Homo sapiens: one gene and its partners. The protein of the gene in region 5 purifies or fractionates together with the protein of the main gene of each other region. This does not show direct contact. Each region holds a gene or a part of one and is shown on either strand. Other genes may lie near its edges. The genes, in order: SMYD2, ATF1, PPARA, TPM1, MYH1 and RIMS1.

The links.
Region 1: the proteins of MYH1 (region 5) and SMYD2 purify together in Homo sapiens (co-immunoprecipitation; one large-scale study listed by IntAct). This does not show direct contact.
Region 2: the proteins of MYH1 (region 5) and ATF1 purify together in Homo sapiens (co-immunoprecipitation; one large-scale study listed by IntAct). This does not show direct contact.
Region 3: the proteins of MYH1 (region 5) and PPARA purify together in Homo sapiens (co-immunoprecipitation; one large-scale study listed by IntAct). This does not show direct contact.
Region 4: the proteins of MYH1 (region 5) and TPM1 fractionate together in Homo sapiens (co-fractionation; one large-scale study listed by BioGRID). This does not show direct contact.
Region 6: the proteins of MYH1 (region 5) and RIMS1 fractionate together in Homo sapiens (co-fractionation; one large-scale study listed by BioGRID). This does not show direct contact.

The regions. Positions count from the first base shown.
Region 1 is NC_000001.11:214,311,714-214,316,573, forward strand, and holds part of SMYD2 (N-lysine methyltransferase SMYD2), read left to right. Parts: intron 1-3,048; coding exon 3,049-3,159; intron 3,160-4,860. UniProt on the Homo sapiens protein: Protein-lysine N-methyltransferase that methylates both histones and non-histone proteins, including p53/TP53 and RB1. Specifically trimethylates histone H3 'Lys-4' (H3K4me3) in vivo. The activity requires interaction with HSP90alpha.
Region 2 is NC_000012.12:50,769,771-50,774,630, forward strand, and holds part of ATF1 (cyclic AMP-dependent transcription factor ATF-1), read left to right. Parts: intron 1-3,678; exon of another isoform or gene 3,679-4,860.
Region 3 is NC_000022.11:46,229,908-46,234,767, forward strand, and holds part of PPARA (peroxisome proliferator-activated receptor alpha), read left to right. Parts: intron 1-1,884; coding exon 1,885-2,332; intron 2,333-4,860. UniProt on the Homo sapiens protein: Ligand-activated transcription factor. Key regulator of lipid metabolism. Activated by the endogenous ligand 1-palmitoyl-2-oleoyl-sn-glycerol-3-phosphocholine (16:0/18:1-GPC). Activated by oleylethanolamide, a naturally occurring lipid that regulates satiety.
Region 4 is NC_000015.10:63,054,887-63,059,746, forward strand, and holds part of TPM1 (tropomyosin alpha-1 chain), read left to right. Parts: intron 1-2,098; coding exon 2,099-2,232; intron 2,233-4,676; coding exon 4,677-4,794; intron 4,795-4,860. UniProt on the Homo sapiens protein: Binds to actin filaments in muscle and non-muscle cells. Plays a central role, in association with the troponin complex, in the calcium dependent regulation of vertebrate striated muscle contraction.
Region 5 is NC_000017.11:10,500,778-10,505,637, reverse strand, and holds part of MYH1 (myosin-1), read left to right. Parts: intron 1-126; coding exon 127-250; intron 251-338; coding exon 339-475; intron 476-572; coding exon 573-828; intron 829-2,389; coding exon 2,390-2,632; intron 2,633-2,723; coding exon 2,724-2,900; intron 2,901-3,726; coding exon 3,727-3,872; intron 3,873-3,953; coding exon 3,954-4,044; intron 4,045-4,138; coding exon 4,139-4,528; intron 4,529-4,860. UniProt on the Homo sapiens protein: Required for normal hearing. It plays a role in cochlear amplification of auditory stimuli, likely through the positive regulation of prestin (SLC26A5) activity and outer hair cell (OHC) electromotility.
Region 6 is NC_000006.12:72,180,050-72,184,909, reverse strand, and holds part of RIMS1 (regulating synaptic membrane exocytosis protein 1), read right to left. Parts: intron 2,627-4,860; coding exon 1,761-2,626; intron 1-1,760. UniProt on the Homo sapiens protein: Rab effector involved in exocytosis. May act as scaffold protein that regulates neurotransmitter release at the active zone.

The DNA of each region.
Region 1 (4,860 bases), on a different chromosome or scaffold from region 5:
ATATTTTATAAATAATAATTATATTAATAAATGTTCATATTTAACTTCCCAGGAATTCATTGTAGTTGCTAAACACCAAGGCACCACCTGCAGTTCAGAAAACAACAGCTTGCAGGCCCGTTAGGGACAGAGATTATGTCTTGGAGTTTTCTTGGAGTTGCTGGAGTCAGAGTGGGCATTTGTCTATAGTTGTTAATGATCCATCTGTCCCCAGCTGGTAGGTCCCCATATCCTCTCAGGTATCCCGAGGGTCATCTCTGTCTTTTCCTCTTTGCTCTGCAGCTGAGGAGGGAGCTGATTAGTCTGCAGGGAGACAGACCCACCTGTTCCCACCTCTTCGCCTCATCACCATGCTCTCATTTTAGGCTTTGGCTAAAAACAGATTCTCTTCTCCCTTGTGCATATCTTGTCATTTCTTTTCCTCCCTGCTCTTAGTTATATTTGGCGCGGCATTATTTAACTCTGCAGAACATCTTGGCCCAGAACTTGAGCTAAGGGGCTGCACCATAGACTGCATTAAATCATTAAGTGACATTATGTGCTTCCTTCTTGGGGGATCAGTGTGGAGGGAAGCGGGTAGGGAGATATCTTCATTCCTTCAACAACTATATTGAGTGCCTACTAAATGCCAGGCACTGTTGTCAGTTCTGGGGTTACAGCTATGAACAAAACAAAATTTCTTTATTTTCCTGGGGAGAGACAGATACTAAACCAAACAACTAATAAATATATAATATGCTCAGGTGGTGAGAAGTACTAAGAAGCAGCAGAAAGCAAGGAAAGGAAGAATGATGGGGAAGTGCTCTTTCTGACAGGGTGATTGTGGCAGGTATCTTGAGAAGGTGACATTCCAGCAGCGGCTGGAGAGGAGGGAGGGAGTCACATGGATATCCAGGGGAGGAGAGTGCTAGCCACAAAACAGAGCAAGTGCGAAGGGCCTTGAGGCAGGTACATGGCTCCAGGCGCAGCCAGGACACTTCTGTGGCTAAGTGCAGTGAGGCAGGTGAGAGTACGGTGGGGGATGATGGGCTGGGGTGGTGCAGGGACGCTCCCATCACGTGTGGCCTCCTAGGTCACCTTTAGCGCTTGGCCTTTTGCCTGGATGAGAAAAGCCATTAGGTTTTGAGCTGAGGACTGGCCTGATCCGAGTTTTGTCAACAGAATCCCTCAGGCTGCTCTCTGGAACCTAGTCCATGGGAGCAAGGACAGAAGCGGGCATCCAGTTAGAAGGCAGTGGCAGGACATTAGTCATGAGAGATGTTGGGGCTGCAGCCGGGTAGAAAGGTTGTGGAGCTAAGAAGTGATCAGATTCCAGGCAGAGACAGAGGATTTGCCAGAACTGACTGAATGTGGAGTGTGAGTGAGAGAGCAGCGTCAAGGATGACTCTAGCTTTCTGGCCTGAGCATTTATTTTTATTTTTGAGACAGAATCTCACACTGTTGCCCAGGCTGGAGTGTAGCGGTGCACTCTCGGCTCACTGCAACCTCTGCCTCCTGGGTTCAAGCGATTCTCCTGCCTCAGCCTCCTGAGTAGCTGGGACTGCAGGCACATGCCACCACACTTGGCTAATTTTTTTATTTTTAGTAGAGATGGGGTTTTATCACGTTGGCCAGGCCAATCATAAACTCCTGACCTCGGGTGATCCGCCCATGTCAGCCTCCCTGCCCTGAGCATTTATGGCCATTTTCTGAGCTAGGGAAGGCCAAGGACAGAGCAGGACAGTACCCAATTCCATCGTGAAAGAGACAGTGTGTAAGGGCTTCCATCAGTATACAACGTGCTCTGATATTTCCCATCTAAAAAAAAAAAAAAGTCCCCCGCAACTTTTCACTACTCTAAGCTGTGTCTCCTTTCATTTTTTCTTGAATCTGCTCCCTGTCATTTCTTACCCCATCATCCCACCAAAACTTGTTTTTATGAAAATCATCAAGCTTCCATGATTCCAAATCACATTCTCCGTCCTCTCACACTAAGCCTATCTCCAGCACTGGCATCATCATTTACTCCCTAGTCCTCAAAGTACTTGCTTCCCTCAGCCTCCAAAACACCATGGTGTCCTTCTCTCAATGCCTTCCCCATCTCAAGTGATGGCGCCTCCACCCTTCCAGCAGCAAATATCCTTCATCCCTCTACCCGGGGCAGGGAAACTTCAGGGCGTATGATAGAAAGAATACTACTGTTAGGCCAGGCACGGTGGCTCACGCCTGTAATCCCTGCACTTTGGGAGGCCGAAGCAGGTGGATCATGAGGTTAAGAGATCAAGACTATCCTGGCCAACATCTTGAAACCCCGTCTCTACTAAAAATACAAAAATTAGCCGGGCGTAGTGGCACACACCTGTAATCTCAGCTACTCAGGAGGCTGAGGCAGGAGAATCACTTGAACCCGGGAGGCAGAGGTTGCAGTGAGTCGAGATCGCGCCACTGCACTGCAGCCTGGCAACAGAGCGAGACTCTGTCTCAAAAAAAAAAAAGGAAAGAAAGAATACTACTGTTTTATCCAGTGCATCTTTGGGAAGTCCTAACTATTCCTAAATCTTTCCAGTGGTTGCCCTTCATGAAACCCTCATTTGTGCTTTTTAAAAAGTCGCCTGTAAAAGGGACTCATTGCTGTGTAAGTCAACTCTCCATTATTTGCCCTGACGTGAGAACAAAGCCAGAGCGGAACTGTGAGGCAACAAAGCCAAATCAATGGCTGATACTCAAATTGCTCCCTCTGCAATTTGACAGCTTGCACAGATGATGGAAAGATGTATGTGTTGTTTAGAATAATGAGGGGCTGCAGAAAGCCATGAGGTGCTTGAGGAAAAAACACAAAGTAGATCTTCTCATCCCAACAAGCTTGACCCAGGCCTGAGTGAAGGTCATACAATCCTGCCTATCTTAAAGGATGTTTTTATCTCTAGCTTTTGTGAGCATCCTCGTGTTTTCCAAAAGGAAACATATTTTACTTGACCTTAACTAGGGGGACTCACTGCATCCTCTCCTCTCACACTTTATTCCAGTGTATGTGCTATTTTTTAATAATGTTTTTTTCAATCTTCCCAGAAAGAAGATTGGCCCATGCACAAGCTGGAATGTTCTCCCATGGTTGTTTTTGGGGAAAACTGGAATCCCTCGGAGACTGTAAGACTAACAGCAAGGATTCTGGCCAAACAGGTGAGGAAATGGGACAATGTTCAAGTGCATTTTATTTTGTTTTTCTTTTAAAGGTCAGAAAGATGAGTAACTGACCTTTGGTAACCATCTCTCGTTAAACATCCTTAGACTACATTTCCTATCATATCCATATGGACAGGGGTGGGGAAAATACTCCAGGCATAATCTAGTTAGTTGTGTGCCCTGTGCAATTAGGATGTTGCTTACCCTAGACCAGGAGCATAGCCACAGCTCTGAAATTCTGAGCTGTTTTCATGACAGGTTTACATGGAAATACGTGACATGAAAAGCCTGACCTCAAATAATTAGAGCTTCCTAGGGAACCAGATTGGTCTGAGCAGCTTTGAGATTTTCCTCTCTTTCCATTCTGACATAAAGAGTGTACTCTGTTCCCCTTTCCTGTGTAATATTCTGCTCTTTCTTGGCTCCTTTCTTGCCTGTGCATAGGCAGGCAAAGAATTGGATGGAACAGCCTTGACTATGACATGTGCAAAGAAGAGAAAGAGTGGAAAAGTAGAAATAGAGGCAAGGGAGAGGGGAAGAGAGTTAAAAAAAAAAAGTGAAGAAGAAGGAAAGAAAGAGGTGCCCTTGATGGAAACAGATGATAGTCATCAATGGCTTTCTCCAGAAGTGATGCCAACTCTGACTATTCTGTGGTGGGCAGGACTATGCAAACTTACGCTCAAAGAGTGAGGAAGCTGAGAGACAGAAGAAAGAAGCTGACAAATCCAGTTTATTAGAAACATTTACTAGGACTTATGAACTGAAGCCATGTCTATGTCTTGGGCGGCAGCAAGACAAGATGGTGGATCCCTGCACCATTACCCACCAGAGCCAGGGCTTATATACCATAGGGAAGAAATGTGTACAGCAGTTACAAGGAAAGGCAAGGATGCTATGCAAATCTGCCTGAGAGCAAGATTTGTGCTCAAGATTGTATTGACCTAAGGCAGGATTTAAGGTAGCCATAGACAAAGTAGAAATCTTAGAAGCATTCCCAGAGCAGGAGTTAACCAGAAATCAACATGGTATATCAGCATCCAAGATGAAATTGCTTTAGCCACCGTACTGACTGTTCTCCGCCTGGTCTGGTTCATTCTTGCTGATTGCATAATAATTAGACACCTAATCTTCGAAGGGCCAAACTAAAAAGAGGACAGGAAAATGCCATAGAACTTGTCCTTGTGATCCAATGAAATAGGCAGTGTGGGGCTTAGAAGGCATATGTCCAGGCTGTGGAGGTCTTGCTCCTCAGTGCTGTCAGAGAAGTTGGTGGCAGGGCCTCTGGACTATAAATCTTTTAAAGCTGAAATTTTGGCTGGGCATAGTGGCTCATACCTGTAATCTTAGCACTTTGGGAGGCCAAGGCAGAAGGATTGTTTGAATCCAGGAGTTCGAGACCAGCCTTGGCAACAAAGTGAGACCCATTCTCTATAATAAATTTTAAAAATTAAAAAAATTTCCCAGGTGTGGTGGTATACACCTGTGGTCCCAGCTATTCTGGAGGCTGAGGCAGGAGAATTACTGGAACCCGGAACTTCAAGGCTGCAGTGAGCTGTGATTGTGCCACCATACTCCATCCAGCCTGAGCAACAAAGTAAATGAGACTCTGTCTCTAAAAATGAAAAAAAAAAACAAACTGAAATTTCATCCACTTCTCCTGTATACCTACCAGCCCTCCTCCACCCTTAAAATTTTTCT
Region 2 (4,860 bases), on a different chromosome or scaffold from region 5:
TTGTTGTCTTGTTTTAATCCTGTTTAGAAGATGATTTATAATCAGCTATAGAACTCTAGCAGGTGTTCTTAAATGCAGGTTTCTAATAACTTTGGAAATTGTAACATTAGAATAGAGGAAACAACTTTCAGAACTCATGAAGAGCTAGAATGTTCATGAATATCAAATGAAACATGAGTTAATTGAATCAACTGAACCAATAGAAAACTGAAGTAATCTTTGATTAAAATGTTGCTGATCCTTTGTTTTGTTTTTCAGAGTCAAGGAAACTTTTCATTTGAGCTATTTACAGTTCATAGCAATTGAGTAAAGTATACTGCTGTGAACGAAATTTGGAACATATTTGTTTCTCTATATCAGATTTCTCCAGAATTTGGAAACTAGTTGTGAGTATTCTTAACTTATGGCAATGTAATTATTTGCATAAGTGCAATAAGAATCTGTTTTCTTTTGTAACAGAATACAATTGGAGAAAGTGGTTATTTTACCAAGGCTTTGACTGAAATGGTGTGCTTTTCTTTAAGGAATCAAACTTGACTTGTAGAGCCAATAAAAGCCCTTTGGGGAACTGGCCTCATACCTTGCCTACACAGTGCCTGTACAGGGTTTCTGACCTATGGTAAGTAAAGAATGTCACTTTCTCACCTGTCCAGGAGCCCCAAGTTATCTTGGGACCTCAAAAGGAGAGAAATTTACCCAAGTTATAGGTATTTAAGGGTACAAACCCATGTCAGGGCTTGGCTTTTAAAAAAGTCTTATCTGAGATTCCTTATGAAACAGAGTTCCATCAAAGCCAATTAAAAAGCCTATGTGAAAAATTATTATTCTTGCTGCACTTTATACAAACAATCAGGCCAAGTATAATAAAGCAAGTCAGTCTTACCATAATTTGTCTTTAGTAAAAATGGGAAACTGGAGAGAGAAATACTATGTTTCAAAAACTATGGTACACTTGTTATTAAATTCTGGTCTCATTAATTGTTTTTAAGTTTGTTTCTGCAATTTAGGCTAACCCTGCGTATTCTTGTAAACCAACCAGTAATCTCTAATTGTTGCTCAGAAGAAATAAGAGGGATGGGTAATTTAAAAATCTGGATCAGTATTCTGATTCTGGGCACATTACAATCAGCTAACAACCCGATATCAGCTTAGTTCCAGTGGTTGCCTGGTTCATGAAAAGTCTTCTAATTTAGTTTATTTGGAATAACTTTACTTATTTTGCTTTACTCTTTTTTTTTTCTTTCTTTCTTTTTGAGACAGAGTCTTGTTCTGTCGCCCAGGCTGGACTGCAGTGACACCATCTTGGCTCACTGCAGCCTCCGCCTCCTGGGTTCAAGTGATTCTCCTGCCTCAGCCTCCCAAGTAGCTAGAATTACAGGCACACATCACAACGCCCAGCTGACTTTTATATTTTTAGTAGAGATAGGGTTTCACCATGTTGGCCAGGCTGGCCTCGAACTCCTGACCTCAGGTAATCCACCTGCCTCGGCCTCCCAAAGTGCTGGATTACAGGTGTGAGCCACTGTACCCAGCCTATTTTGCTTTACTCTTGTGGAATATATTGCTGTTATACTTTTTGTGTAGGAATACAGGACAAGCTTACTGAACGTTTTCTTACTAATTTTCCAGATACCACCTTTTGTTGAAACTTGAGTTATGAATGAACCTTACCATACTGATGCTTTCTGACTGAGCTCCTTTTTACCCTGAATGCAAGAGACCCTCATAGGCAGGCAGGAATATCATTGCCCTATTTAGCCTGAAGAAGTTATAGAAGATGGATCTTCGTCCCTCTGCAACCCTTAGGATTAAGGGTTCTCTTAGACGGGGGGAAATGTCAGAGGCGTATGAACCAGAGCAACTCCATCTTAAACAGGCTGGGTAAAATGAGGCTAAAACCTACTGGCCTGCATTCCCAGATGATTAAGGCATTCTAAGTCACGGGATGAGATAGGAGGTCAGCACAAAATACAGGTCATAAAGACCTTGATGATAAAACAGTTGCAGTAAAGGAGCCGGCCAAAACCCACCAAAACCAAAATGGCCACGAGAGTGACCTCTGGTCGTCGTCACTGCTGTGCTCCCACCAGCGCCATGACAGTTCACAAATGCCATGGCAAAGTCAGGAAGTTACCCTGTATGGTTTAAAAAGGGGAGGCATGAAAAATCCACCCCTTGTTTAGCATATCATCGACAAATAACCATAAAAATGGACAACCAGCAGCCCTCGGGGCTGCTCTGTCTATGGAGTAGCCGTTCTTTTATTCCTTTACTTTCTTAATAAACTTGCTTTTACTTCACACTGTGGACTTGACCCATTATTTCTTGTGCGAGATCCAAGAACCCTCTGTTGGGGTCTGGATTGGGACCCTGTCCTGTAACAATAGCGTCTCACTGTGTTGCTCAGATTGGTCTCAAACTCCTGGGCTCAAGCGATCCTATCGCTTAAGGGTACAAAGTGTCTCCCAAAGTGCTGGGATTACAGGAATGAGCCATCGCACTTGGCTATATTTTTGCAAGTTTTGTTGTGCCTGAATTGCTCCATTCCTTTTTTTTTTTTTTTTTTCTTTTTTGAGATGGAGTTTCACTGTTGTTGCCCAGGCTGGAGTGCAATGGCATGGTCTCGGCTCACCGCAACCTACGCCTCCTGGATTTAAGCGATTCTCCTTCCTCAGCCTCCCAAGTAGCTGGGATTATAGGCATGTGCCACCACCCCTGGCTAATTTTGTAGTTTTAGTAGAGACCGAGTTTCACCATGTTGGTCAGGTTGGTCTCGAACTCCTGACCTCAAGTGATCCACCCACCTCGGCCTCCCAAAGTTCTGGGATTACAGGTGTGACCCACTGTGCCTGGCCAAGTTGTCCCATTTCTAAAGCTGGGGTGAGGTAACTGTCTAAATATATTTTTCTCTCTCTCTCTCTCTCTTTTATTTTAAGAGACGGGTGTCTCACTTTGTTACCCAGGCTGGAGTGCGCCTAGCCTTTTTTTTTCCCTTCAACTTTTAAGTTCCAGGGTACATGCACAGGATGTGCAGGTTTACTGCATAGGTAAACATGTGCCATGATGGTTTGCTGCACAGAACAACCCATCACCTAGGTATTAAGCGCAGCATCCATTAGCTGTTCTTCCTGATGCTCTCCCTTCCCCCACCGCACCCTCCTCCACAGGCCCCAGTGTGTGTTGTTCTCCCACCATGTGTCCCCGTGTTCTCACCATTCAGCTCCTACTTATAAGTGAGAACATGCAGTGTTTGATGTTCTGTTCCTTTGTTAGTTTGCTGAGGATAACAGCTTCCAGCTCCATCCATGACCCTGCAGAGGACATTATCTCTTTCCTTTTTATGGCTGCATAGTATTCCATGATATATATGTACATGTTCTTTATCCAGTCTCTCATTGATGGGCATATGGGTTGATTGCATGTCTTTGCTATTGTGAATAGTGCTGCAGTGAACATATGTGGGCATGTATCTTTATAATAGAATGATTTATATTCCTTTGGGTATATACCAATAATGGTATTGCTGGGTCAAATGGTATTTCTACCTGTAGGTCTTTGAGAAATTGCTGCACTGTCTTCCACAATGGTTGAACTAATTTACACTCCCACCAACAACGTAAAAGCATTCCTTATTCTCCAAACCTCGCCAACTGTTGACTTTTTAATTGCCATTCTTTTTTTTTTTTTTTTTTTTTTCGAGACAAAGTCTCATTCTATTGCCCAGGTTAGAGTGCAGTGGCACAATCTTGGCTCACTACAACCTCCGCCTCCTGGGCAGCCTCCCAAGTAGCTGGGACCACAGTCACCCACGATGCCAGCTATTTTTTTTTTTCTTGAGACTGAGTCTTGCTCTCTTGCCCACGTTGGAGTGCAGTGGTGCAATTTCTGTTCACTGCATCGTTTCCGCCTCCTGGGTTCAGGCGATTCTCCTGCCTCAGCCTTCCAAGTAGCTGGGACTACAGGTGCCCACCACCACGCCTGGCTAATTTTTGTATTTTTAGTAGAAATGGGGTTTTGCCATATTGGCCAGGCTGGTCTCAAGCTCCTGACCTCAAGTGATCTGCCCGCCTCGATCTCCCAAAGCGCTAGGATTACAGGTGTGAGTCACCATGCCAGGCCGGTAATCGCCATTTGACTGACGTGAGATGGTATCTCATTGCGGTTTTGATTTACATTTCTCTAATGATCAGTAATGTTGAGCTTAAAAAGCTCTTAGTTTATTGCCTAACATATAATGTTTCTTTCTTTGCAAGTTTTCTTTTCTTTTTTCTTTTTTTGGAGATGGAGTTTCACTCTTGTTGCCCAGGCTGGAGTGCATTGGCACTATCTCAGCTCACTGCAACCTTTGCTTCCTGGGTTCAAGCAATTCTCCTGCCTCAGCCTCCCGAGTAGCTGGAATTACAGGCATGTGCCACCATGCCTGGCTAATTTCTTTTTTATATTTAGTAGAGACGGGGTTTCTCCATGTTGGCCAGGCTGGTCTTGAACTCCTGACCTCAGGTGTTTCACCCACCTCGGCCTCCCAAAGTGTTGGGATTACAGGCGTGAGCCACCGCGCCCGGCTGCAAGTTTTCTTAAAAGGGCCCTGCCTTCCCTGACATTCTCTCTATGTCAGCAAGATCTCAGCCCACCATTTCTCAGTTCCTTCTATTCCCATTGATGGTGCTTTTGAAGCGGTGTTTCACTACTCCCTTGTTTCTGCCTGACTTTGGGTTATCTCCTGTTAAGCTTATATATGCTAACTGGGGGCTTACTTTATTTTTACAGAAAATGCATTCGTACATATAAAATTTATTCTGTATTGAACAAGTTTTTAACACATTGTTAATCTTAACCTTAATTTTAGAAATAATAGCTTTA
Region 3 (4,860 bases), on a different chromosome or scaffold from region 5:
CACCGGTGCCCTGAAGACAGTTTTGTGCTGTGAGTCCAGAAACAGGAAACACTTCAGGCTGTGTGTCAGAAGCATTGTCAGTGGTTGTGTTTTGCCCACTGGCAGGGGGCATTCTTTAAATCCTGGGATGCTTCTGCGCTTTGGGCTCCACTGTTCCAGCAGTGATTAGAAATAACGCTGTAGGCCGGGCGCGGTGGCTCACCCCTGTAATCCCAGCACTTTGGGAGGCTGAGGTGGGCAGATTACCTGAGGTCAGGAGTGCGACACCAGCCTGACCAACATGGTGTAACCCCGTCTCTACTAAAAATACAAAATTAGCTGGGCGTGGTGGCGCATGCCTGTAATCCCAGCTACTCAGAAGGCTGAGGCGGGAGAATCGCTTGAACCTGGGAGGCCGAGGTTGCAGTGAGCCGAGATTGTGCCATTGCACTCCAGCCTGGGCAACAAGAGCAAAACTCTGTCTCAAAAAAAAAAGAAATAACACCTTAGCCCACTGCATTATTGACCTGTGTCTGCATGAGCTGTGGACCACATTATAATCAGAGAGATCTCTCAGATGTTGTCACTTTCCTGCTCTACCCGCAGATGTAAATTTCAGCCAACAGCAGTGTTTGTGCTCATTTTCCCCGGCTCTCCCACACATGTAATCCCTTCTGAGCATGTTGGCTTCAAATAATATGGCCAGCCACCTCTTCCACCACGAGATCTTCAGGAAATGGCAGGCCACTGGGTTTACATGCAGATGGCATGGGAGCACACAAGGCACGGCTGTGGGGAGTTGGCACTTGCTCCAGAATATGGAGCACCGAGTGAAGGTTTCAGTTTCCTGCACTGAGAGAAACAAGGGCATTCCGAGGCTTTTCCACTTTATCCCTAAAGAGTTTCACAACGCTTGTTTGCCGATTTCTACATAGATGCCACCTTTCTGAGTTGTATGTATTTACATGCCAAATGTATTCATTGAGCAGCGTTAAATAATGGTGTTCACCCCTAAAGTGCATATACTGGTAAAATTAAGAATGATCGTAATTAAGCCTCTTGCAATAGTCATTAGTTCAGAGAATATTTAAGAATATTAAAGGTGCTTTGCTAATGTCCTCGTTAGTTTTGTTTTGACAAAATCAGTACTTCAGTTTCTTGTTTCTTTTTTTTTTGAGACGGAGTCTTACTCTCGCTCTGTCGCCCAGACTGGAGACTGGAGTGCAGTGGCACGATCTTGGCTCACTGCAACGTCCACCTCCCAGGTTCAAGCGATTCTCCTGCCTCAGCCTCCCGAGTAGCTGGGGTTACAGGCACACACTATGCCTGGCTAATTTTTTTTTTTTTTTTGAGACGGAGTCTCGCTCTGTCACCCAGGCTGGAGTGCAGTGGCGCAATGTCGGCTCACTGCAAGCTCTGCCTCCTGGGTTCACGCCATTCTCCTGCCTCAGCCTCCCGAGTAGCTGGGACTACAGGCGCCCGCCACCACACCCAGCTAATTTTTTTGTATTTTTAGTAGAGACGGGGTTTCACCATGCTGGCCAGGCTGGTCTCGAACTCTTGACCTCAGGTAAACCACCCACCTCAGCCTCCCAAAGTTCTGGGATTACAGGCGTGAGCCACCATGCCCAGCCCAGTACTTCAGTTTCTTAGCGATGAAATCCACCCAATGTCAGGCGATGACTATTATTATTTTACTGATTTATACTGTTTGTTCTCTATTAATGTCTTATTTTCCCCAACCGATTTTGAAGTTGAGTAAGGACTATGTTCCGCGGGTATCTTGAGTCCTCTGAGGCACTGAGCTTGGTGATTTGGACGCAGGAGCTGCTCATTAGTGAGCTGATAGCTGGGAGCATAGCGCATCCCACATCACCTGACTTACCTTGGTGTCCTCCTTTGTAGCCTTTTGTCATACATGATATGGAGACACTGTGTATGGCTGAGAAGACGCTGGTGGCCAAGCTGGTGGCCAATGGCATCCAGAACAAGGAGGCGGAGGTCCGCATCTTTCACTGCTGCCAGTGCACGTCAGTGGAGACCGTCACGGAGCTCACGGAATTCGCCAAGGCCATCCCAGGCTTCGCAAACTTGGACCTGAACGATCAAGTGACATTGCTAAAATACGGAGTTTATGAGGCCATATTCGCCATGCTGTCTTCTGTGATGAACAAAGACGGGATGCTGGTAGCGTATGGAAATGGGTTTATAACTCGTGAATTCCTAAAAAGCCTAAGGAAACCGTTCTGTGATATCATGGAACCCAAGTTTGATTTTGCCATGAAGTTCAATGCACTGGAACTGGATGACAGTGATATCTCCCTTTTTGTGGCTGCTATCATTTGCTGTGGAGGTGAGTGGTTGATTTAATCTGCTGGTATCATGTCACTGACAGGCTCCTGTCTTGAAAAATTTGACAATGGGAAATCCAGTACCAGCCTGAGCTGTTCCAGTGGAGGGGACACTCACATGGTGGGAAGACGTCTGACCCCCAGTCACTGCTGAGAATTCAGTGGGAATTATAACAATATTGTATAATATTATAGTATATATTGTTATTATCTATAAATACATATTTAATATTATGTAAATGTATGACATTTTAATCATAATATTAGCCAGGTGTGGGGGTGCACACCTTTAGTCCCAGCTACTTACTCAGTAGACTGAGGCAAAAGGATCTCTTGAGCCCAGGAGTTCAGGTTGCAATGAGTTATGAATGCACCACTGCACTCTAGCCTGGGCAACAGAACAAGACCTATTTCTTTAAAAAAAAATTATATATTTTGCACAAATATATATATAGAGAAAAAGAGGTCGGACATGGGCCTGTAATCCCAGCCCTTTGGGAGGCTGAGGTGGGTGGATCACTTGAGCCCAGGAGGTTGAGACCAGCCTGGGCAACATGGCAAGACCCCGTCTCTACAAAAAAAAAAATAGAAAAAATTAGTCAAGTATGGTGGCATGTACCTGTAGTCCCAGCTACTTGAGAGGCTGAGGTGGGAGGATCACTTAAGCCCAGGAGACAAAGGTTGCAGTGAGCCAAGGTCACGCCACCACACTCCAGCCTGGGCGACGAAGAATGACCCTGTCTCAAAAAAAAAAAAAAAAAAAATTATACACACACACACACACACACATTTCGTTTATATTATATCTAATATTATAAACAGATATAATTTATATATTATGATATTCCTGTATATATTATATAATGATGTTGTATTCATATTATAGACAATATTGTATGAAGTGCTATACAGATGTCAGTATAGTTGCTGTCACAGTTGGTTATGTTGATGAAAAGTATATTTCCTAATGCAAAATATAATATCAGTCAGCAGCCAAGTGGCAGTGACTGCAAGGTTTGCTTTGCCCGAGGAAGCAGATCCCAGGGAAGGCCGATCTGGTCCTCTCTGTGGAAGCTGGCTCTGCAGCCTCCACATTTTTGGCTCGGTGTCACGTTCCTTTAAATAGCCCCATCTCAGGTCTAGGAAGGTCATCCACCTACTGCAAACTCGGCTGACCTTACCCAGGGTTGGTGGAGACAGATGGGGTCTCCCACACTGCCTGCAGCCATACTGCGCCTGGGGGATTGACTCACTGTCAGCATGGAGCTGACTCAGCCCTACCAGCCGTGCCCGTTACTGTGTGGCTGGGCACAAGTCAGATGAAGGAAGTCCTTGCGCTCTGGCATAAAGTGTACAAAGACAAAGCAGTTATGCATAATTTGTCCTTTAGTATGGTCAGGATGTAGCATTGTGGGTAAAATGCAGTTGCAGAACTATTTATATGTAGCATGATCACAGTTTTATAAAGGAAATTATAATCCTATATCAATCCTATGTATATAGAAAAATGTCCAGTGAGATATATGTTAAACCTATTATGGTGGGATTAAAATTATGAGGGGGGATTTCTATTTTTCAAAAGATTCCTCCTTTTTTTTTTTTTTGAGACAGAGTCTCCGTCTGTCACCCTGGCTGGAGTGCAGTGGCACGATCTCAGGTCACTGCAACTTCCGCCTCCTGGGTTCAAGTGATTCGCCTGCCTCAGCCTCCTGAGTAGCTGAGATTACAGGAACATGCCAGCACACCTGGCTAATTTTTGTATTTTTAGTAAAGATGGGGTTTCACCATATTGGCCAGGCTGGTCTCAAACTCCTGACCCCGGGTGACCCACCCACCTCGGCCTCCCAAAGTGCTGGGATTACAGGCATGAGCCACTGCACCCGGCAATAATTCCTCTCTTTAGAGACTTAATAGTTATAGCCCCAGCCACTCTGGAGGCCGAGGCAGGAGGATTGCTTGAGCCTAGGAGTTCCAGTCCAGCCTAAGCAACAGAGCAAGACCCCATCACTAAAACAATACAAAAACAAGAATTTTAGAAATAAAAACTTAATAATTACATTTACAACCAAAAACAATGAAGATGTTTAAATCCTCATCACTAGCAACCCTGTTAAGAATCATAGTAATGACTGGGTCTGTAAGGGAGCACCGCCTGCTGAACATGGCTCAGGGCAGTATTTTCTGGACCAAGAATCAGGTCTCATGCTTTGAGACTGTCCCAGGATGTCTAGTGCCAGCTACCCCAGGCAGGTCATCTGGTGTGAATGTTGACTCTTCCTGCACCAAGTCTCAGACCTGCCCCACCCTCCTCCCCACTCTGGGTCTCCTGATCTTGGCTCACTGCAATCTCCGTCTCCCAGGTTCAAGCGATTCTCCCACCTCAGCCTCCCGAGTATCTGGGATTACAGGCGTGAGCCACCGTGCCTGGCCTACAAAACCTAGTTCTAACACAATCACTCCTTAAATATGGTGGAACACTTGAAGCTTGATATCTAGTTTGGATTCAAAAGCTTCATTTCCCATATTATGC
Region 4 (4,860 bases), on a different chromosome or scaffold from region 5:
TTTTTGCTTCCGCTTTGAGTCTCCCCCCCACCCTCAAAAGGAATAGAATTTTACTGGAAAATGAAAATATAGAAAAGTGAAGAAATCTTACCTGACCCAAAAGTATATCCTTAATATATACATCCTTCCAGTAATAGTAATAAAAAAAAAAAGCCTAATGGTTTTTAAAAGACACTTCCCTATAATTGAGAGATTTGTTATCCTATTACCCTCACCCTTCAATACACACACACACCAGAAACAACAGTCATCTGCCAGTAATTCCTAGCTGGGTCCATTTACCAGCTGTGCACTGATAATGATTTACTTTGTAGGCAGTACAGTTGTAAATGCTCTTCCTCTGATTTATTTCACATTTGCCCTGCTCCCTGCCTCCATCAACCAATTACTACATTTTTGTCAAGATAAAAGTGTATTTACATGTTTTTATAGAGTCCTTCACCGTGGTTGGAGATGCCCTACTCACCTCTCTTCCCAGATAAAACTTGGCATTTAAAATCTTACAAATCTAGGTGAGCAAAGAGCTGAAGGTTCTCAGATTCCTTTGATTAAAGACTATGACCACAGTTTCTAACTACATTTGCATTTCCAACTCTGTATTGTGGATCCATAAGCTGAGAACGTTGCTTTTATTAAAATTAGGTTGGTTTTACTCATCTTACTGAGCCCATACTCTGTGCAGAGAACTGTGAGTTCTCTGGATGTGAGCAGCTTACAGTTCAATGACAAAGACAGGGCTGTGTGTAGAGAAATTTGTTATCCTATTACCATGGGTCCCTAAGTGTGTATTGTAATTTCTAGAAAACTCCTAAGTGTTCTGAAAACCCCACCACCCCTTAGTGAACATACATTCAAAGTGGATGAGGATATTTTACCTGATTAGTAAATTCCATCTCCCACTTCCATGCACAATATTTAAACAGCCACCAGTGCAAGTGTGTATAATGGACCATCATAGTCTTATAAGTGTTCTGAGGCTCATAGCAACAATTTCTTATGACAGGAAAAAAATCATTGCCTCTCAAAGAAACCAACATTTTATTTCAGTGACAGATACCAAGTAAAAACAGTACTTGTATTATTTTTCTTTTTAGGAGTTTGATACTTTTCTTGTATTAACCTTGACTTCAAAGAAAAATCATAGGCTTACATCAAAAACACTTGGGAAATTTGTCTTGGCTCTGTTCCAATGAGGCCAGTTATTCTAAAAGGGGTTACTGGATTGTGTTGGGCCTTCATGTGGTGTGTATTTTAGAACCACTGAATTTTAAACTATTTAAGTTCCTTTGTAAGGATCCTATGATAAAGTGGCTTGAAGGAAAGAGTTGAGTGAAACTCTTGAGTCCGATTTCTGGCTGTACTGCTATTGTCTTACATGGCTGAGCCTGGGTAAGTCTTGTCTCAGTTCACACTTCAGGCCCCCAGTGAGTGAGGTGGCCGTGATGACGCTCTTGTTTAACAGGCAAGTAAAGCCAGGGTGTTGAACTCTACGGAAGTGGGCCGGGCGCAGTGGCTCACGCCTGTAATCCCAGCACTTTGAGAGGCCAAGGCAGGTGGATAAGGAGGTCAGGAGATTGAGACCATCCTGGCTAACACGGTGAAACCCCGTCTCTACTAAAAATACAAAAAAATTAGCCGGGCGTTGTGGCGGGCGCCTGTAGTCCCAACTACTCGGGAGGCTGAGGCAGGAGAATGGCGTGAATCCAGGAGGCGGAGTTTGCAGTGAGCTGAGATCGTGCCACTGCACCCCAGCCTGGGTGATAGAGCGAGACCCTGTCTCAAAAACAAAACAAAACAAAACAAAAAAATCTACGGAAGAAAGGAACCATGTGAAAGAGCGTTTGCTAATGATCTGTCTGTCTGATGAGAATTGTGTGTATAGATTTGTGTATACACAAATATGGATGTTCACTGTATAAATCAATGTGTAAATGTGTCCGAGAACTCCAGAGTTGATGAGGGCTTGTAATGCACTTAAAGGTAGCTCACCACAAGACAGTCTTCCTATCTGAAATCAGCATTGCAGTCCCAGCCATTTCCTGAAGCTACCACCCTCACTTTCTCCCCAACTCTGAAATGCTTTTCACTCTCTACCTAGGCTGAAGCCGACGTAGCTTCTCTGAACAGACGCATCCAGCTGGTTGAGGAAGAGTTGGATCGTGCCCAGGAGCGTCTGGCAACAGCTTTGCAGAAGCTGGAGGAAGCTGAGAAGGCAGCAGATGAGAGTGAGAGGTGAGAATGCCTCATCAGCCATCTTTTGCAGCTGCCTTTCCTGGTGGAATAAACCGGAGGGCTCCTGTGATCTTTGAGGTTTAAGAATTTTTCAGTCCCCTGGTGGTGGGATCATTTCCTCTATTGATCCCAGGTATAACTCGGTTGGTTTTGTTCATTTAGCATTAGTGAAACACCTACTATGTCCAAAGCACTGTCCTAAGCCCTAAGGTTACAAAGAAGAAGATGATCTTGTTCCTGCCCTTACAGAACTCACCATCTAATGAGGGAGACAGACATGTAAAGGAGAAATGTCAGGGATACAAGTTGGCCCTTTCACTCCTACTGACCACAGAGCAATTGTGCATTTTTTAAAGTGTAACTTTATTTTATAATATACAAGGAGGCTTAGGTGTAAATAAAGGAACTGTGGACTATCAGTTGTCAAAATAGCTTAACAAATAGGTGGAAGAAAAAACACAAAGCAGAAACATGGTCTGCAAAAGTAAAATATTTTGGACTTGGTCTTAGTAATATACACAACACACATGCACACAAATAGTCAGATGCTCGTGTGTTCTGAGCCCACCTCCACTGTAATCTGGCTGTAGCTGAATTATTACTCAGATTCAGCTTTGTGGTAGTAAAGGAAAGCATGGTTCGTATAGACCAGCACAGCCTTGTGTGGTCTAAAAGGCATTTTCCCTTAAGCTCAACTGTTGGAAGTAAGGATTTGCCATATTGCATAGAAGTACTTCAAGAGAGACTCCATGAGGTGAGAGAGCGTTCTGCCGCTTGAGGGATGGCATAGCATGAAGGGGCTCAGAGCACTGAATGTGTATCTGTCTGTGCTGTGACCTGGGCAAGTGAATGCAGTCAGTCATCTTGTCCATTTCTTACTCTTTGAAGTGACCCTACCACTAGGTACCAGGTATAAAGAGTGATTTCAGACTTTAGGATTAAAGAAGATTTTTAGCTAAACTTTTTAGGCCATTATTCACCGCTGCTTAGTGTTTCTTCGCTAACCAAGCATTTTGGACTTCTTTAAGATGACTAAGCATCTTACAGTGTACGCATAAGAGCAGTTTTGTGGCTGACTTCTTTCTGAAATATACTTGTTAGTGTACCTTAAAGGCAGTCTGGTAATGTTAGACTTCGGAGTAAAGGGGACTTGGGGATCATTTAGTCCCTTAGTTTTACAAATGAGAAAAGTAGGGCTCAGAGGCTGATGTGACTTGCACCAAGGCTCACAGCATATTTGTGGCTAAGCCAAGACTCCGACCCAGATCTCCTCAACTGTATTCCAATGCTTCATCAAAAGATAGTGGGCCAGATGTGGTGGCTCACACCTGTAATCCCAGCACTTTAGGGGGCCGAGGCGGGCAGATCACTTGAGGCCAGGGATTCGAGACCAGCCTGGCTAACGTGGCATAACCCCTAAATCTACTAAAAAATAGAAAACTTAGCCAGGCGTGGTGGTGCACACCTGTAATCCCAGCTACTCGGGAGGCTGAGGCAGAAGAATCGCTTGAACCCAGTAGGTGGAGGTTGCAGTGAGCCAAGATCACACCACCGCACTCCAACCTGGGTGACAGAGCGAGACTCTGTCTCAAAAAATAAAAATAAAAAAATAGTGGTTCACTTATACTGCCTACTTAAATTTTGATAAATGAATTCCATTTTACATGACTTGTTATTCCATATATCTGTAAAATATCATAGGTCATTTAGTATTTTTCTGAAACATTACACCACGCTATAGGACCCTAATATACACCATGCCATAGGACCCTAATACACTCAGTGTAGAGGACAGTGTCAGGCCTGTCTCCCAGCATTGCTGTCATGAAAGGGTTCCATTATAGGTAAAACTTAATTTGATGCATTCAGTTGAACCATAAGAAATTGCCATTATTACTTGTCTGAAATGGTCAAATATCAGCATTCTTTGTGGACTTAATAGTTTATTAAATCTAACATTAAGTCTAATATTTTTGTTTATGGGTGGCAGGGTAAGAAGATTCTTTGTAGAAAGAGGTATATAAAGATAAGTTTGATTTTGTTCTAGCTTTGGTTCATGTGCAAGCTGAGGCTTCCCACAGGAAAGGCAAGAAATCTCATTATCTTTTTAATAGTAAAGCATATTGGCTTTTCCGGTTTCATACTGCCAAGATTCAGACAGATTCCTGACGTGGTACCTTTCGTCATCATTAATGTTAGATGCCTGATAGTTTCATCAGTACTCAAAGTGAGAGAGTTCATTCACAGTGAACAGAGAGAAATGTGTCTCTTTTTTCCACCTTTAGCTCTGGAAATTGTTGTTTCCTGGTTTGGAAAATAAAAGTAGCTCTGTGCTCTATTTTGGTCTACCACTTACACTAAGCCTCACAAGCCACAGCAGTGCAGTGTGCATTTGGGAAGTTCAGCTCTAAATCTTGGGTTTTCTTGCTTGTCTTTCTTTTCAGAGGCATGAAAGTCATTGAGAGTCGAGCCCAAAAAGATGAAGAAAAAATGGAAATTCAGGAGATCCAACTGAAAGAGGCCAAGCACATTGCTGAAGATGCCGACCGCAAATATGAAGAGGTCAGATCCTGGGGCCCAAAGCCTTGTGGACACCCAGCAGTGGCCTTCAGGAAGCCAGGGAGCAAT
Region 5 (4,860 bases):
TAAAGGGGTAGATATGATTTCTTGTTTATTTCAGATTACCCAGTGGCTATGTTGTTTCTATAGCCAGACAGGAAGATTTCTTGTCTGTGGCAACAGCCATATCATTTTTTTGTCTGGCTTAAACAGATACAAGGTGTTAAATGCAAGTGCTATCCCTGAAGGACAATTCATCGATAGCAAGAAGGCTTCAGAGAAGCTCCTGGGGTCCATTGACATTGACCACACCCAGTATAAATTTGGTCACACCAAGGTAATATTCTGTAAATCCTACCTGATGCTATTCCTGTCCCTTTGAACTTTATGTAAATTTTCTGATCTGAAATTCTTCCCACACATAGGTCTTTTTCAAAGCTGGTCTTCTGGGGCTCCTAGAGGAGATGCGAGATGAGAAGCTGGCCCAGCTGATTACCCGAACCCAGGCCATGTGCAGAGGGTTCTTGGCAAGAGTGGAGTACCAGAAAATGGTGGAAAGAAGGTATTAATAAGAATTCTTTACTTAACCTCATCATCTTAGGTGTTTTAATTCTGCTTCTTATTATAATCTGATTTGGACATTTCTGTTCCTATGACAGAGAGTCCATCTTCTGCATCCAGTACAATGTCCGTGCCTTCATGAATGTGAAGCACTGGCCCTGGATGAAGCTGTATTTCAAGATCAAACCCCTCCTCAAAAGTGCAGAGACAGAGAAGGAGATGGCCAACATGAAGGAAGAATTTGAGAAAACCAAAGAAGAGCTGGCTAAGACCGAGGCAAAAAGGAAAGAGCTGGAAGAAAAAATGGTTACTCTGATGCAAGAAAAAAATGACTTGCAACTCCAGGTTCAAGCTGTGAGTATCCCGAAGTCATTTCCTGCAATCTGATGCTAAAACTTCAGCTCAGTGGTCACTAAGGAGAGATCTAGATTCTACCAAATAAGGGACAGATTATGAATCTTTAATAATCCACAACTCCTTAGAATGTTCTATAGAATTCCCTATACAATATTACTAAAAATCACTGTGGTAGGATTCTTTGATGTCAAGAAGGGAAAAATAAAAGCATTTTTCCTTCCCCTCTGTTGTTTTCTACAGCAGAATGTGAACAGGAAATAAAGTGAGCTTTGCTCCCTAAATTCTCCCTACTGAAAAATGCAAATAAGAGCTGTGAAAAAGAAAAATATTGTCAGTGAAGAGGAAGGAGACTTTGATGAAAACACATTAACTTGAAATCAATATTCTGAGTTTTGTATCTACAATCCCCGAGCAACTTTGTGCTCAACTTTATTTTTAGAAACTTTTAGTACCTGAAAGAGTAGGATTATGGCAAGAATAATGGCAATGCTTTCTGTAAGGATAATGGCAATGCCTTCCACAGATAATGTCTATTTTTATGCAAAGTATGAGAGATAGGGTTGATATTCTTATTCTAATGTCCCAGTAACTATCCAGAGGCTTGGAGAGAAATATTTGATCAAAAGCCACTATCTAACCCATTTTTGTAACACAAATAACAAGACAGTTCAATTGCTGCCACCAAAACCAACAGCAGAAACATTAAAAGTTACCATCCCAGTTCTCTGAATTCAGAAAGGGAATTGACTAGTCCCATTGTGCCTACAAGTTTGGGACACATATTTAGAAAATCTAAAGTATGATGAATTGCAAATACCTAGGTTGGTACTGTGACTTTCCTGTACTTTGTATAGATCAGGGTTTTCCACATTGAGGAGTGGTTCATCGTGCCTTCAAGAAACAGGAGATAATCTATCCAAGAATACTCCTCTCCTTTGAGGATAGTATTATAAAACTTCTGTTTAACAATATTCTATCAACTATCCACTAATAAATATTGGGTGAAGTCCCGGACAGGGATGTAAGTTTGAATGAGAGACATGGTCCTTCCCTCACAGTTTATCTCAACTCCTATTTCTTCTTATGAGAAATATGCTTGCTACTTCTCTAAGCATCACCTTGAACATGTTCCATTCCCTTTGTCTACTCTGTCACTGGATGACATTTCTTCCTGTTAAGGCACTTTTCTGATAGTACCCTTCTCTCCCAGCAACCTGCTAGAAACCCAATCCTTTTGTCTATTGGTTTTTCATATATTGAATGCTCCTGAAAATAAATATTAAATAAAGAAAATTGGCTGACCCGAAATTATATACCAACATATTATATATGTTATAACAAATATAATTGTAACATAATTTCACCAGGAACTATGACTTAAGTTCCTTTTTTTATTACCGGACTCATAAGTGCCCAATATTTACTGAATGGTAGAAAGCTAATAAAAATTAACCTGAAGGCTTAAAACAATTTACTTGTTTGGTTTCAAAATATTAATAAAATCTGAAAATGTCTAGGAATTTTCATAAAATCTAAAATATCTATTGCCTCTTCTCAGGAAGCTGACAGCTTGGCTGATGCAGAGGAAAGGTGTGACCAGCTAATCAAAACCAAAATCCAGCTAGAAGCCAAAATCAAAGAGGTGACTGAGAGAGCTGAGGATGAGGAAGAGATCAATGCTGAGCTGACAGCCAAGAAGAGGAAACTGGAGGATGAATGTTCAGAACTCAAGAAAGACATTGATGACCTTGAGCTGACACTGGCCAAGGTTGAGAAGGAGAAACATGCCACAGAAAACAAGGTATCAATCATATTCTACAGTACTGTATAGAGGTTCTGCCACCCAACAAAGGTGCTTTAGAGCAACTAAGCTGCTTTCTTCACCTTTGTAGGTGAAAAACCTCACAGAAGAGATGGCGGGTCTGGATGAAACCATTGCTAAGCTGACCAAGGAGAAGAAGGCTCTCCAGGAGGCCCACCAGCAGACCCTGGATGACCTGCAGGCAGAGGAGGACAAAGTCAACACCCTGACCAAAGCTAAAATCAAACTTGAACAACAAGTGGATGATGTAAGCCTAACATTATATAAAAATGATTTTTTAAATTTTGTAACAAACTAAGTAAGCATAAGTTTGTGTCGTTATGATATAGTGAGTACTTATCAAGTGCCTCCTATGAATGAGGAATATGGAACATCATCCCTATTACAAGGTCTAAGATGTACACACAATAAAGTTTTTAAAATCAATAAAGAAAGTTAACTGTGAATAATAGACAATACGGGTAAAAAGAATTGATGGAAAGGAAGGTTAATGTGTTCACAAAGAAAAGCTATACAAGCAAAACAGGTCTTTCGCTGGGCTTGAAAGACAAGGGGCTATGTGCAAAAAGAAAGAAGAGGGAGGGTGTTCTAAGAAGGCAGCATAGCAGCAGCAAAGAAGTTGTAATGATCAATAAGGTTTTCTCTCACAGAAACAAAGGACACTCAGAATTAGGAATGTGGAAGATAAATTTGGCTTTAAACATGATCTGATATCTAATAGAGAACCCACTGAAAATGCCTGAGTAAGGGAGGCGTTAAAAAAGTTCATGGTTTGGAAGTATTAGCATGGTGTCCATCCCAGCTGGAAAAGTATTGGATTCCAGTGGGGAGATGCAGAAGGCATAATGTCTCACTAGTAACTTATTGTAACAACGTGACAAAGAGGCACATTTTACCTTTTAAACGATGACTTTTTCGACTAGGTAAATACCAAGGAGAATGGAATCAATGGGACAAATCTGCCTAATTCATAGAAAAATAGTTTGCTGCATAGATATAATGTTTAAAAATTTCATCTGGGACAAAAGGTGCTACCATTCTAAGAACCATATTCATGGATTATTAACTTTTAGCTTGAAGGATCTTTGGAACAAGAAAAGAAAATCCGGATGGATCTAGAAAGAGCAAAGAGAAAACTAGAGGGAGACCTAAAATTGGCTCAAGAATCCACAATGGATATAGAAAATGACAAACAACAACTTGATGAAAAGCTTAAAAAGTAAGCAGTTTTAGGTCAACAGTTTTGTGGGGAAATTACTCTTAATATTTCTGAGACTGACATAAAGGGCTTTTCTAATAGGAAAGAGTTTGAAATGAGCGGTCTGCAAAGCAAGATTGAAGATGAACAAGCCCTTGGTATGCAGCTGCAGAAGAAAATCAAGGAGTTACAAGTACGTTAAATGATTTTCGCCAGGCTAATTTAACATCGAAAAGTTACTGACACCAAGAAGTTGAGTTCGTATTAATATTTTTCACCATTCCCAGGCCCGCATTGAGGAGCTGGAGGAGGAAATCGAGGCAGAGCGGGCCTCCCGGGCCAAAGCAGAGAAGCAGCGCTCTGATCTCTCCCGGGAGCTGGAGGAGATCAGCGAGAGGCTGGAAGAAGCCGGTGGGGCCACCTCAGCCCAGATTGAGATGAACAAGAAGCGGGAGGCTGAGTTCCAGAAAATGCGCAGGGACCTGGAGGAGGCCACCCTACAGCATGAAGCCACGGCGGCCACCCTGAGGAAGAAGCATGCAGATAGTGTGGCCGAGCTTGGGGAGCAGATTGACAACCTGCAGCGAGTGAAGCAGAAGCTGGAGAAGGAGAAGAGTGAGATGAAGATGGAGATCGATGACCTTGCTAGTAACATGGAGACTGTCTCCAAAGCCAAGGTACAATCAACACTTCACATTGATTATTTGGTTTTTTGTTTTTCCCTTTAGCACAAATATGATTTGTATCTCAAAAACGTCTCATGAACTAAATCAGGCACCCTTTTTCTCATATCACGTATAGTACAACTTAGTAAAGTAGTTAGATTAACAAGTAATTCAGTGGCTGTATGCTTGGACTATGTATCTTATTAGTCTTTCCATTCACTATCTAAGACCTTTGCTGGTTTTGTTTGTAAAGATAGTTTCTTCTCAAAATAAATGAGTACTGCAGCTCATATGGAATGTTTAGATTACTGAAACTTTCTTTGGTCCAACTACTTACTTGAGAT
Region 6 (4,860 bases), on a different chromosome or scaffold from region 5:
AGGGGGTTAATAGTTTTATACATAGAGGCAGCCCTTACTGCATTTGCACAAAACAGTAGAGCTAGCCTAACCCTTCCTGCCTTAAATACTAGTGCTTGCTTCTCTTCCTTACTACTAAATGTCCTTTTTGGCACTTTTTTTTTTTTCCCAGAATAAAGCACCTTGCATTAAAAACCTGTTCAGGCACATATCCTTTCTCCTCAATAATTTTCTTAATGGCATCTAGAACTCGTCTCTGCTGGTCCACAGAAGCTGCTTCTACTTTTGACATTTTTTAAAAGCCAAACCTCTTCCTTAAATGATCAAGCCATCCTTTTCCGGCATTAAATTCTCTAGCTTTAGGTCCTTGACTATCCTTCTGCTTTGTTATATGACGACTTTGCTTTTTCCTAATATTAGAGTCTATAGATACACATTTTTATAGCAATCCTGCAGCCACATAAAAGCTGCATTTTTAAGGCAAGATAAAAGTTTTTCACAAAAAGTGCACGGGTTTTGCTCCTGCTGACGTAGCTGCAGCAACAGCGTCACAAATTTCTTTTTCAACAATAGTCCTTACACTGGTTGAATTTATCTTGAAATGGTGGGCAACTGCAGCTGCAGACCTCAATCTGCGGTACACATCAAGCAATTCAACTTTTTCTTGTAATGTCATGACGTTGCTTCTTGGGAGCACTTCTAGTGTCACTAATGACACTCTGTATGGGTCTCATGGTATTATTCAAAGTTAATGGTATTGCACTAAACATCACAAAAAATACGTGAGAACCACAAGATACCACGCAATTTACTGGAGAAAGAAACTGCTCAAAGGGAGATGATAAGCATCACAGGGCATTTTAAAGTGGTGCTCGCAACACTAAAATCACTGGAAGAGGCTAAGGAAATTATTACAGTAATACAGTATGCACTACAGTTAATTTCATGCAGCTATGATTTAATACCGCATGTTTACATATTTACATTTCTTCCCACTGCAAATGGCGCCACGTAGTCTATAAGTGTGTGTTTAAGGTTTTATCATTTTTAACTTTTTATAATAGATTCATGTACATTTTATGATAGCAAATGATAAAACAGACTAGTATCTATATATATAGTATGCATTCATGACATACCTAACTTTTTCTTATTTTATTAAAATATTGCCAGGCTACCCGGTTCGTCCACAAGTTTTTAAAATTGCTGCAATTCTCAAAAAAAAAATCCAGTATATTTATTGAAAAAACATCCATATATAAGTGGACCCATGCAGTTCAAATCCGTATTGTCCAAGAATAAACTGTAATCTGTTCACAAATTGTGAGAAAGGTTAATTTGAAGTTTGAAAAAAAAAAAAACTACCTTTGCAACTGTAATATTACGTAACTGATGTGGTTTTTTTTTAATGTCTACTTCCTTTATAAGGCATAATTTTCATTTTCTAGCAAACAAATTGTTTTTCACAGAATAATAAATCCACTCTAAAATAATATCTTAAAAATATTAGACTGCATACCAAATTTACCAGAATGACAGAATGCAAAATCACCAAGAACTTTTGTAGCCTAAGTTTGGAGCTTGTTGTGTTTTAAAATCCCACAAATCAATCAATAAAATTAAATTAATAAAAATAAGACCTTCCACTGGCGGTAACGCTATCTTATCTGTGAGCATTCCCAGCCTCAATGCTGAACCCAGCAACTAGCCTAGCACCTGCACCTCTGCCCACGCCTCTTCACTTGGCTGAAGTCCCCGCACGGCCGGCGCCGCCCCCTTACCTTTCTCGCTGACGCTCTCGCTCTCCAGCTCCACGTCCTCGCAGCTGGTGTACTCGGGCGTCGACACGCCCTCCTCCTCAGAGCTGCTCACCGACATCTGCCGCTTCTTGCCGCCTCTCTTGGACCGGTGCGGCTTGGGCGGGGACGGCCGCACCGACTCGGACTGGTCTGAGCTCAAAGAGTCGTTCCGCAGCATGGTCTCCACCTTCTCGCGCTTGGCCTTCCGCATGAGGACCGCCGAGCTGGGGTCCAGGCGGCTCTGCTTCCTGAGGGGCTCCTGGGCTTTGAGCTCCGGGGCTTCTGCGGGAACCGGCCCATGTCTGGGCGCCGGCGGGCTGTGGTTCGTTAGCTGCTTGGCGCCCGGCGCCCTGGTCTCCGCAGTTCTCTCAGCCGAGTAAGCCCGCGGCGAGTCCGGCGGCGAGGCCCTGGCTGCCGCCGGCGCGCGTTTGCCGGCCTTGCCCTCCGGCAGCGCCGCGCCCGCCTCGGTGCGCGGGAGCGCCACGTCGCTGTGGCGCCGCTCGTGCCTGGCGCGGGACACCCGGGCGTGCATGCGCATCTGCTGCTCCTCAGGCGGCGGTTTCACCGGGTACCGAGCTAGGTTCGGGTCGCTGCGGTACCTGGTCTGATAATCCTCCTCTTTTCTTTGCTTTTCCTCATCCGCCGCTTTGCCCTCATCCCGTTTTTCCGGCGTGTCTGGGTAATCCTGTGATCGCCCTTTCTCAAGCCTTCGGCTTTCCCGCCTTTCTTTGCGCTCCCGTTCTTCGACGGCCCCCTCCACGGGCTGCGCTGAGGTCTTTGGCACGCGTTTCCGCTCGCTCTTCAGGGCTCCTTTGCCATTCTGCTCGGAAAGCCCTGGGGTCTTCTTTCTATGATATACAAAGGAACGTCAAGGAGAGCAATTTATAAAGACTAGACATAAAAAACATGTTTTCTTCTCATTCCAGTCTTAAATCATTTCAGTTACAATAATTAGTTATAGGGATTTGGATCTGAAGGTGGAACTGTAAGGGTGTTGGAATTTTACAAGGTAAGGGATCTAATGGGAACACATATTAATTATTACCAAATATAGTTTTCATAAGAGTGTCATGCTTGTACTACATTTAGCAGCTCATTGAAGCATAGTTGCTCTTGTTAGAAGTTTACATTGAATCAATTTACTTTTCTTGAAATGCTGAAAAATACTTACCTTGCAAGGTTCATGTGAGGATTAGAGACACCATCTGTGAAGATGTTTTATGAAAGGGTAGAGTGTCATGCAAATGGAAGGAGTTCTCCAGTGTCTCTGATTCTTTGCTCTACTAATTATACTTTTTCTCATCTCTACCTTTAATTTTCTGTTTCTAACTCCTTGACAGTACAAAATACGGTCAAGAATTCTTCAGTAATTTAAAACAAATAAACAGTGTCTCTTTCAATCTTGCTTCTCCCTGAAGTTGCCCAGCTCTTTACACTGGCCACCTCTCTTCCTGCTTCTGTACTTCCCAATTCCTCATTGCTTTCCTGTGAATTTATATCATTAGTAAAGTTATTTGTCCCTATCAATCTTCTTCAAATTTTAACTAAAAAGTCAGAACAAAAAGTATCTATTCAGCCCTTGTTCTTGAAATTTTTATAGTTTTTCACTATATGTCAAAAACAGAACTCTTTTCTCTTTAGAAACTTTACAGCTCCAAATTCTCTATCTTATTTAAAGATATCATCTTCCAACCAGTTCCAAACTGCAGCTTCAGTATTTTTGTCTCTTCTTCTCCCACAACAATTTGTCACCAAATGCTATTAATTCTACGTTCCCTGAGATATCTCTGGTGTCCTTTCTATCCTTTCTCCAAATAGCTTAGTAACACTCATTCTCTTGTACTGCCCTCTTATACGCTGTGTAGCTCCCCTACAACTCCTGAGTATCTTACAAAGCTTAATTGAGAAGTCACTTCCTCTTTCCTAGGGCTCTCAAAATACTATACATATTGCCTAGCTTTGATCAAATTAGCATCCTTGTTAATTACCTAGGTGTCTGTCTTCCCTAGAATAGTGTGTGGTCTCTTCCCTAGGATTTGTCAGAAAAGGGACCATGTATGTTCTAATCATCTTTATGCCCTCTGGTTCCTGGCACAGTGTTTATCTGTAGTAAATACACAATGACTACTGGCTTGAATAATAGCTACATTCACTGAAAGCCTACTATGTGCCAGCTTGGGAACACATGTTCTCTTTTAATACCTGCCACAACCCTGCAAGTGAGTTTTTACTGCCTATTGTGGCAGAGCCAGGACTAGAATCCAGACCTATTTAACTTTGAAGTCCTTGATCTTTTACTGTATGGGCTTTGCTTGAAAAGGGGTTCAAAAGCTTTCCTTGGAGCCTCCTTTCTCCAAGTAATGGTTACACATACAAAAACAATAAGCCCAGTCTAGGTGCTAACAAAAGTCCTGGCCCCAAAATCATGAGCCTCATGAAGATAAGGGCTCTGTCTTCTTTGTCAACACTTTTTCCCAGTGCATAGCTTCATGTTTGCCCATGAATACATTTTTGAATGAATCAATCAAAGTAAATAATCTGATCATATTCGTCCCTGTTTAAATATTCAGTGGCTTCCCTTTCACCTACAATAAAAGCTATAAAATGTAACCTGTCCCTTCACCACCTCACCAGCCTTTTCTCCTCCACATTGCCTCTGCTACTTGCACTGTAGCCAGCAGCTATCCTTTAGGAGGCCCTCACGTTGGGCTTGTTCCTTCAGGCCATGTGCCTGTGCAGATACCTGGAGCACCCATCCTTCCCTTCTCCTGGTTAATTTCAAAGTCACTCTTTAGAGCTCAGCATAAAAGAAATACCCTTAAAGAAGGCTTCTCTGATGTGTCCACATACTTTCTGATAGGTCAGATTCCCCCATCACATCCTCTCAGAGCACACTTTTAATTAAAGGGCTAGGTTTATAAGTGAAACATGATCTAAGAGCTTTTCTGAGTTCATCATTGGAAGTTGGTAGCTCAGCTGGGTGACTTAGTTCATGTTTACATCTGTGCATGATATGAAAGAAATGCTTTCAACAAAGGTCTCCTAAGGAATACATTCTAGAGATAGACAACGCCCCTCAGGC